Homo sapiens: one gene and its partner. The protein of the gene in region 2 interacts with the protein of the main gene of each other region in a pairwise test. Each region holds a gene or a part of one and is shown on either strand. Other genes may lie near its edges.

Region 1 (3,982 bases), on a different chromosome or scaffold from region 2:
TGCTGATGCTGATGCTATAGTAACAGCATCTTTTCTATGTGTTCATCTTCCAAAAGCCTGTGACCCCAATATACTCTACACTCCTCAAAAGATTCTTGGAAAGAGACTCATATGCCTTAGGGACAAGGCAGCAGAAATGACACAAGTCCTGAATGAGCATCTCCTGTCTGGGGTGATGAGGGAAGGTGGGAGAACTGCTAGTGTCACCCAGGATCCACAAGGCCCATGGGGACCTCTGGTCCAGAAACGGCAACTTGCTATCCAGAGTTCAGGAAGTAGCTTGCAGCTTCTGTTGCCCAGGCTGGAGCACAGTAGCACAATCTCAACTCACTGCAGCCTCGACGTCCTGGGCTCAAGCAATCCTCCCACATCAGCCTCCCAAGTAGCTGGGACAAATGACCAAGGCTTGTCTTTGCTTTAAACCTGGCCTTGTGAGATGTCCCATGCAACTACCTAGTCTTTGGTAGGTGCACACCATCATGCCTGGCTAATTTTTGTATTTTTTGTAGAGACAGGGTTTCACCATGTTGGCCAGGCTGGTCTTGAACTCCTGACCTCAGGTGATCCACCCGCCTCGGCCTCCCAAAGTGTTGGGGTTACAGGTGTAAGACACCGCGCCAGGCTGCAGCTTCTTATACATGCACCTTGCTGAATTAGAAGTAGGAGCTCAATAGGGGAGGGAGCCTAATGAATCAAGGCTGTATTTCCAGGGAGCTTGAGACTTGATGTTAGGCTTACACACACGCACACACACACACACACACACGCCTTTCCAGTGGGCTGGCTGGGCCTCTTCTCCTCACTGCCAAGTTGCAAAGTTGTGTGGTCACCTCCCCCCCCCACACACACCAGCTTCCCGCCAGCCTGTGCCCTCAGCCCTCGCCTCCCTGAGCCAGGACAAAGCCCCGGCAGTGACTGGGAGGGGAACAGGAGGAGGGACAGAGGGATGGGAAAGCCTGCACAAAGGAATTCCTCACCCCAAGCCCCCTGACCGCCAGCGAGTAAAGAAGCAGATTTGCTCTCCCTCCCGCTTCCTCCCTCCCATCTTCCCACCCGGGCTGTGCCCAGGCCACAGAGCAGCTGCAGGCCTTGGGAGAGGACCCACACAGCCTCCTGTAGGTGGCAACAGTGCCACCTGTTTGACTCATAGGGCTGAACCGAGGACTGAAAAAGGGAGGAGGCAGACCACTCGGAGAGGAGCTGGGAAGCAGTGCAGAGAGGAGAGCGGAGCGGAGCTGCCGCTGAGCAAAGGTGTGAGGGTTCGGGAAGGCTGGGGGGCTACAGGTGGGAGCTGTGGAGCAGAGACCAGCTCCATCCCACTGGGATTGGGCCGGGGGATTGAATGGCACCCCTGTCAGCAACCCTACTTGGGGTTTTCAGGCTGCTCAGACCCTGATCCCATCCTACAGGCAGCTCCTGAAGGGAGGGGACTCTGGAAGGCAGTGTCTGGGGTGCAGGGGTAGGACCCCAGGGGAGGCAAGAGCTTAGAGCAGGCTATCAAACCAGCTCCAAGATGGGCAGAGGCAAGGGCTTCCCTTTGGGTTGGCTTTTTACCGGGAAGGGTCTCGTAGAGGGGAGGGGTTTCCTTCCCCCAGCTCCAGCTCCTCACCCCTACCCTAACCCTCCTTTCCCAAGGCAGCATAAAGAGGGCAGTTCAGAAGCAGCCACACCTTCCTGCTTACCGGACCCACCCACTGTGCACCCCTCTAAGACTCCATAGCCTCGGGAGAGCTCTGAGGACAAGAGGTCCTGTCCCTCAGCCCGCACGCACACATGCTCACACACTTTGGGTGTATCCAGGGGCTCCTTTACATACTCAAAGTCACCTAAAATCATATTGTACCGACAGCCAGTTGTGCTGTCGCGTGCAAATGCTGACACAAATCACATACCGTCTCGCGTAGAATCAGTCACGTACCCAGCCAAGTCTGGGGATCAGCTCAGTCAGCCAAACCCAGAAGCATAAGGTACAGGGGTCCCCTGCCCCAAGACAACCACACCCCGCATACACACCTTTGCCCTGCGTTTGTTGTACTTTCACCAAAGCTAACTTAGAGGGTGGGGCTCCTAAAGGCGAGTCTGGGCTTCTGGTTGGGGTTGGGGGATGACTGGGCAGGAAAGGGCAGGACTTGAGGGGAGGCTCTGTATTTTGAAAATCCAAAGATTCCTTTAGAAGACTGGGAGTGACCCAGGCAACATGTTCACCTCAAGTCTTTCTCTTTTTGGCAGTGCCCTTTGTCCCCTGAGAGGTGGACACAGAGAATCTTTCAGGGATTTGTGATCTGAATAATCTCTATAACCATAGCAACTGGCCAACTAGCTGGGCCTTCCTTAGCCCCAGGTCAGAACTGTAACCTTTGCTTCAGGTTACTCCTGCTTCCTGGGCTGGAAAGCAATTCAACATGGGGTTGCCTCCAGCTTGGCCAAACCTGCTTTAACTTGCTGAACTGAGTTTGTCCCACCCTGGGCAGTTTCTCTTGAGTTCTTACCCCCAGGGCAAGCACTCCATCCCCAGAGGTGTGTGCTGTTAAATGGGGAGGAGCTGGAGAGAGTGGATATGAATCCTGCCCGAAAAGAGGCTGGACCTCTTGGGTGTCCCACTGACTCTCCAGGTAACAAGATTAAAGGGAAACGAAGGCTCTGGAGACTGTCTCCCATTGCCAGGCTTGCAGCTGGGGCTGCTCGCCTCATCCACTCTGGCACTCTGGGCCTGCCCCGTGACCTCCGTTGCTGAGCAGCGGCCCAGGCCTCTGCCTCTCCCCCGGGCTCCTCAGATACACTAGGAGGGAGACTGGGATCTGCCCTCTGCCAGGGTCCCTGATGGTCGAGTGTCCCTTCCCCCAGGCCTTCACCATGGCCGAGTCCCCCGGCTGCTGCTCCGTCTGGGCCCGCTGCCTCCACTGCCTGTATAGCTGCCACTGGAGGAAATGCCCCAGAGAGAGGATGCAAACCAGCAAGGTGGAGTAGGGATGGAGGGGGGAGGCTGGAAGTCAGAAGGCAGAGGCTCACTGGAGGGGATAAGGAGGCCAATTGTGCTCATAGACAGCTTGGGGGAAGGGGCTCTCTCTCCCAGGAAGAAAATCTCCCTCAAATATGGAAAGAGCTGCCCCCCGAGCAGAGCAGCCCAACACGGGGCAGGCAGCTCCCTTTAGCTGCCACCCGTTGGGGACTCTGAGTTTGAAGTAGGTATTGGTTGTGAGTTTCTCTCCTGCCCCTTTGCAGTGCGACTGTATCTGGTTTGGCCTGCTCTTCCTCACCTTCCTCCTTTCCCTGAGCTGGCTGTACATCGGGCTCGTCCTTCTCAATGACCTGCACAACTTCAATGAGTGTGTCATGGATTCCCCCTGCTTCCCCAGCATACCTGTCAACCTGCTCCCCACCCTGGGACCCGGGGGTGGCCCACTGTCAGTCATCCCCCAGCCCTGCCCAGCTGCTCAAACCCAGCTCTGCTGCTACCCAATCTCCTTAGAAAATCCCTCCACAAAATCTCCTCAATCCTTGGAGCCCCTGGCCACGAGGGGCTTTCTCCTCACTCCCTTCTAGTCTTCCTGGATCCACCCACCCCACCTCCCCTCAGGCCACTATTGACACCCCTTCCCCCACTTGGACACCTCCCTCTCCCCTCCCACAGATTCCTCTTCCGCCGCTGGGGACACTGGATGGACTGGTCCCTGGCATTCCTGCTGGTCATCTCTCTACTGGTCACATATGCATCCTTGCTATTGGTGGGTCCGGAGGCCGCTGGCCTAACCCCACCTCAGCCTTCCTTCCTGCTTAGTTTTAGCTCCCTATTCTCATCCTGGCCACTGAGGGAGGGGGCTAATTCTTGGGTAGGAGGGAAGTACCAGCCTGGGAAGCCCACCTCAGTAACCTTGCTCCCCTCTTGGCACCCCATAAGTCCCACTGCTCTCTTCCTCTAGGTCCTGGCCCTGCTCCTGCGGCTTTGTAGACAGCCCCTGCATCTGCACAGCCTCCACAAGGT
Region 2 (3,500 bases):
GATAAACACCTGGGGGGTGAACACAGGGCGGCTCCACCTGCACTCCAGCACCTTCCCGCAGCCCACCGCCTCCTCGGGCCAGAAGGGAGCTGGAATGCAAAACTCTTCACACCCCCTCTCCCACCACAGCCTCCAACACTGTGGCCACGGGGCACCAAGCCAGCTTCTGACCCAGCCAGCCAGGCGGAGAGAAACAAGCCTCTGGCCAAACATGAAGACACGTCTTCAGCCCTGCTTGAAGGAACAGCCCCAGGTCTTCCTGTGGCTACTGAAGGGAAGTAGGGGAGCCAGGGGGCTGAACGCTCAATGGCCAGTTTGAACTCAGTCTCATTCTAGAAACGCCTGAAGTCATGAGACCGGGAGAATGGCCTTAGTGTTTTGGTGTGGCTGGGTGGAGAGAAGCCTAGAGGTTTTAGGAAAAACAAGTTTTGCCTTATTTTCAGTACTGAGTGTTCAGCAGGACAAGACAGGAACGTTCTGTAGCAAGCACCTAGTCAGTTCCATTAGCCCTCAGGCAAGGTGGGGAGATGTAGGAAGGAAAAGCAAACATTCTGCCTCCTAGATACAGTCCACCACCATGGACAAGGCACGAGGAAAAGAAGAGACACATACAGAGACTGTTTGGGATTTTTCTCTCTCTGTTTTCACCACGTAGGGAAAGCAATGCTAAAAGTAGTTTCTACTTTGGGCAGGAAGCATGAAGTGCTGGGTAAGGCCACGGTTCTGTGGCAATCTAATACGCCAGCGAGGAGCTACTGCTGTCCATGAGCTCAGCAGCTGGGCACTGGCACAGACAGATTTTTACAAAACCCAAAGCCAGAGAGAGGGAGAATGTGTTCCTGGATAGGGGATTAAGAACAAAGCACGTGGGAAATGACAATGTGCCTTGTTTGTTCTATTTCTTTTTTTTTATTTTATTTCTGAGGCAGGGTGTCTCACTCTATGGCCCAGGCTAGAGTACAGTGGTGGTATCACGGCTCACTGCAGCCTCAACCTCCATGGCTCAGGTGGTCCCCCCACCTCAGCCTCCCGAGAAGCTGGGACTACAGGCGCACCCCAACACATGCGGCAAAGGTTTGCATTTTTTGTAAAGACAGGGTTTCGCCATGTTACCCAGGCTGGTCTCAAACTCTTGAACTGAAGCAATCCTCCCACCTCTGCCTCCCAAAGTGTTGGAATTACAGGCATGAGCCATCACACCCAGCCAGTTATATTTAACTTACTTCAACTTACATTTTCTGTTAATGTTGGTAAGGATTTAGTAAAGTAACAAGAATACACATTATCTAAAGAGGCAATTTTAAAGAAAAATTAATAAAGCGTCCTTAAAATTGAAACTTATCAGTGTTGGTTGGGCCAGGCAGTCACAGTTTAGAACTTGCTGTTCAAAAGGCAGGAGTGATGCCAGAAAGAGCTACCCTCCCGTGCTCCGAACAAGCCTGCCATAGTCAGTTCTGTACAGTGACAGGCAACATCGCGGGGAGGAAGGATCTCGCCAGTCGACACCAATGGGGCTGCTCTACGGGCTCCCCTATTCTCAGGCCCACAGATCTCAGGAAGCCTCTGCAGTCAGAGGATATGGGTGGAGAGGGGAAACTGAGACCCAGAGACGGGAAGTGCTTGCCCAGAGACATTCAGCTTGTCAGTAGTGGATCTGGGACTAGAACCCAGCGCTGCCTGTTGCTAGCTTTGAGGTCTTTCTACAAGGAGGAGGGCTTCCCTAAATCCCAGTAAGTCCATCTTTCCCTATAGTTGGCTAAAACTGAGCACAATGCACTCTCTCACTTTATTCCTACAATACCCAGAGAAGTAGGCAGCAGAGGCACAGTTAGCCATTTCCAGTTGGAGAAAATGAGACACAGGCACCTTAGGCCTTTCTCGCAGGGCCCCACCAGTTCCCAGAGGTCAGGCTGGTGCTCAGGACCACTGTGCATAAAACGCGGGTGGCCCCCGAGACCCCCAACCCTCCAGGTCCCGTCTGGCTCACATCGTTGCTGATGGTGGAGTCTCGGTGGATGAGGCGCTGCACGTGGCTGTCGATGCTGCTGCCTGAGGAGAACTTGGTGCGTGTGGCTGGGTGGGCCTCCCGCTCCCGCTGCCTCACCACCACCTCGCAGGCCTTCCACTCTGCCAACACCTGCTGGTACCTTGCTGCCACCACTGCGTCCACCTGTACTCAGACCACACCACGACCATGGGGGAAGCGTGCACCAGGCCCTCCCCTTCAGGAGCTGGGCCTGCACTGGACCTTGGGTCCTGAGTCTCAGACTCAAGACGGGCCTCAGGGTAAGGACGGTGGAGCTGCCCTGCCATGCTTCTTTCCGGCTGGGAAGGGGCTGAGGCTTCCAAGGTCCCCTCCCTGGCGTCCCCTGGCCCAGCTCCCCATCTCATCAGCCCCATGGGAACAGGCTCCCCTCACCTGCTCCATCTCCTTCTTGCTCATGCCGAACTTGTAGTGGCCAAGCAGAAAGGGCCAGACGTCCTTGCGGATCTCGTGCTCTATGCCTCCGTAGTAAACTTGCCGCAGCAGCTCCAGCTCTTTGTAGTTCTGAGGGACCCGGGGAGTCAAGACTGTGCAGCCTCCACAGTCACCGTGGCCCAGCTGGGTGAGCCCCATCCCACGGAGAATGGGCTGGGGCGGGGCCTGTAGTGACTGCTGAAGCCCAGGCAAGGCCTGCTTTGGGGTGGCCACGTCCTCCCGTGCCCCAGCTCACAGTGGGATGAGATCTCGTTCTGCTCTCCTTCCTTAAGGGGCAGGAAATGGCGCCCGGAGAGAGGCAAAGCTTTGTCCAGGGTCACAGGGCGATGTGGAGGCAGGACGGCTTCCCAGTCCAGCCCCCTTCCCGTGTCAGCCCCAGGCCCAGCTGCAAGAGATTCTGCCGGGACCCTGGTCACTCCGTGGCATCGGCCCTGGCCTGTCAACCGCACCCACTGGCACATTTTACCCTGAAGCCCTCACTCCTGCCCGCCCCAGCCCCTCGACCTGTGGCCCTGGAACCCCAGGGTTGGCACCTTTTTGTCCTTCTGATACTTGCTCCACACGTCCTTGGTGAGGCCCGCGGAGGCCCCCGGGGGCCGGTCAGGTGGGATAACGCTATGGTGCACCAGCGCCGACAGGTGGGTCCGCACCGTGGACAGGTGGCGGCAGTGTGCCAGCCCTGCGGTGGGCAGCGGTGGGCAGCAGGAGGCTGGGACCCAGGGCCGCCCGCCCCCAGCCCGCCACAGCCCGGCGCGCCCCACACTCACAGCCGTAGAAGGCCCGGGACACGATCTGCCTCTTCATACTCTCACACAGTAGCCTGAGCGGCAACCTGTGGCAACAACCGGGCTCAGCAGGGAGGGGCTGCGGCCCCTCTGGTGGGAGGAGAGAGAGAAGGGAGGAGGCTCTGTCCTGGGGGGCAGGTAAGGCACTGGGGAGGGTGCGAGGAGGAGGAGCCGCAGCCCAGCAGCCGTCAGTGGGTGCCCTGTCCCTGCCTGCCACCTGGACAGAGTGCTGTGGG

Evidence for each region.
Region 1: the proteins of SGSM2 (region 2) and GDPD2 interact in a two-hybrid assay, tested with the Homo sapiens proteins (one large-scale study listed by BioGRID and IntAct).

Annotation. Positions count from the first base shown.
Region 1 is NC_000023.11:70,422,132-70,426,113, forward strand, and holds the start of GDPD2 (glycerophosphoinositol inositolphosphodiesterase GDPD2), read left to right. Parts: upstream 1-1,182; 5' UTR 1,183-1,251; intron 1,252-2,844; 5' UTR 2,845-2,853; coding exon 2,854-2,958; intron 2,959-3,222; coding exon 3,223-3,326; intron 3,327-3,631; coding exon 3,632-3,725; intron 3,726-3,920; coding exon 3,921-3,980; intron 3,981-3,982. UniProt on the Homo sapiens protein: Has glycerophosphoinositol inositolphosphodiesterase activity and specifically hydrolyzes glycerophosphoinositol, with no activity for other substrates such as glycerophosphoinositol 4-phosphate, glycerophosphocholine, glycerophosphoethanolamine, and glycerophosphoserine.
Region 2 is NC_000017.11:2,372,001-2,375,500, reverse strand, and holds part of SGSM2 (small G protein signaling modulator 2), read right to left. Parts: intron 3,312-3,500; coding exon 3,247-3,311; intron 3,159-3,246; coding exon 3,013-3,158; intron 2,549-3,012; coding exon 2,420-2,548; intron 2,171-2,419; coding exon 1,988-2,170; intron 10-1,987; coding exon 1-9.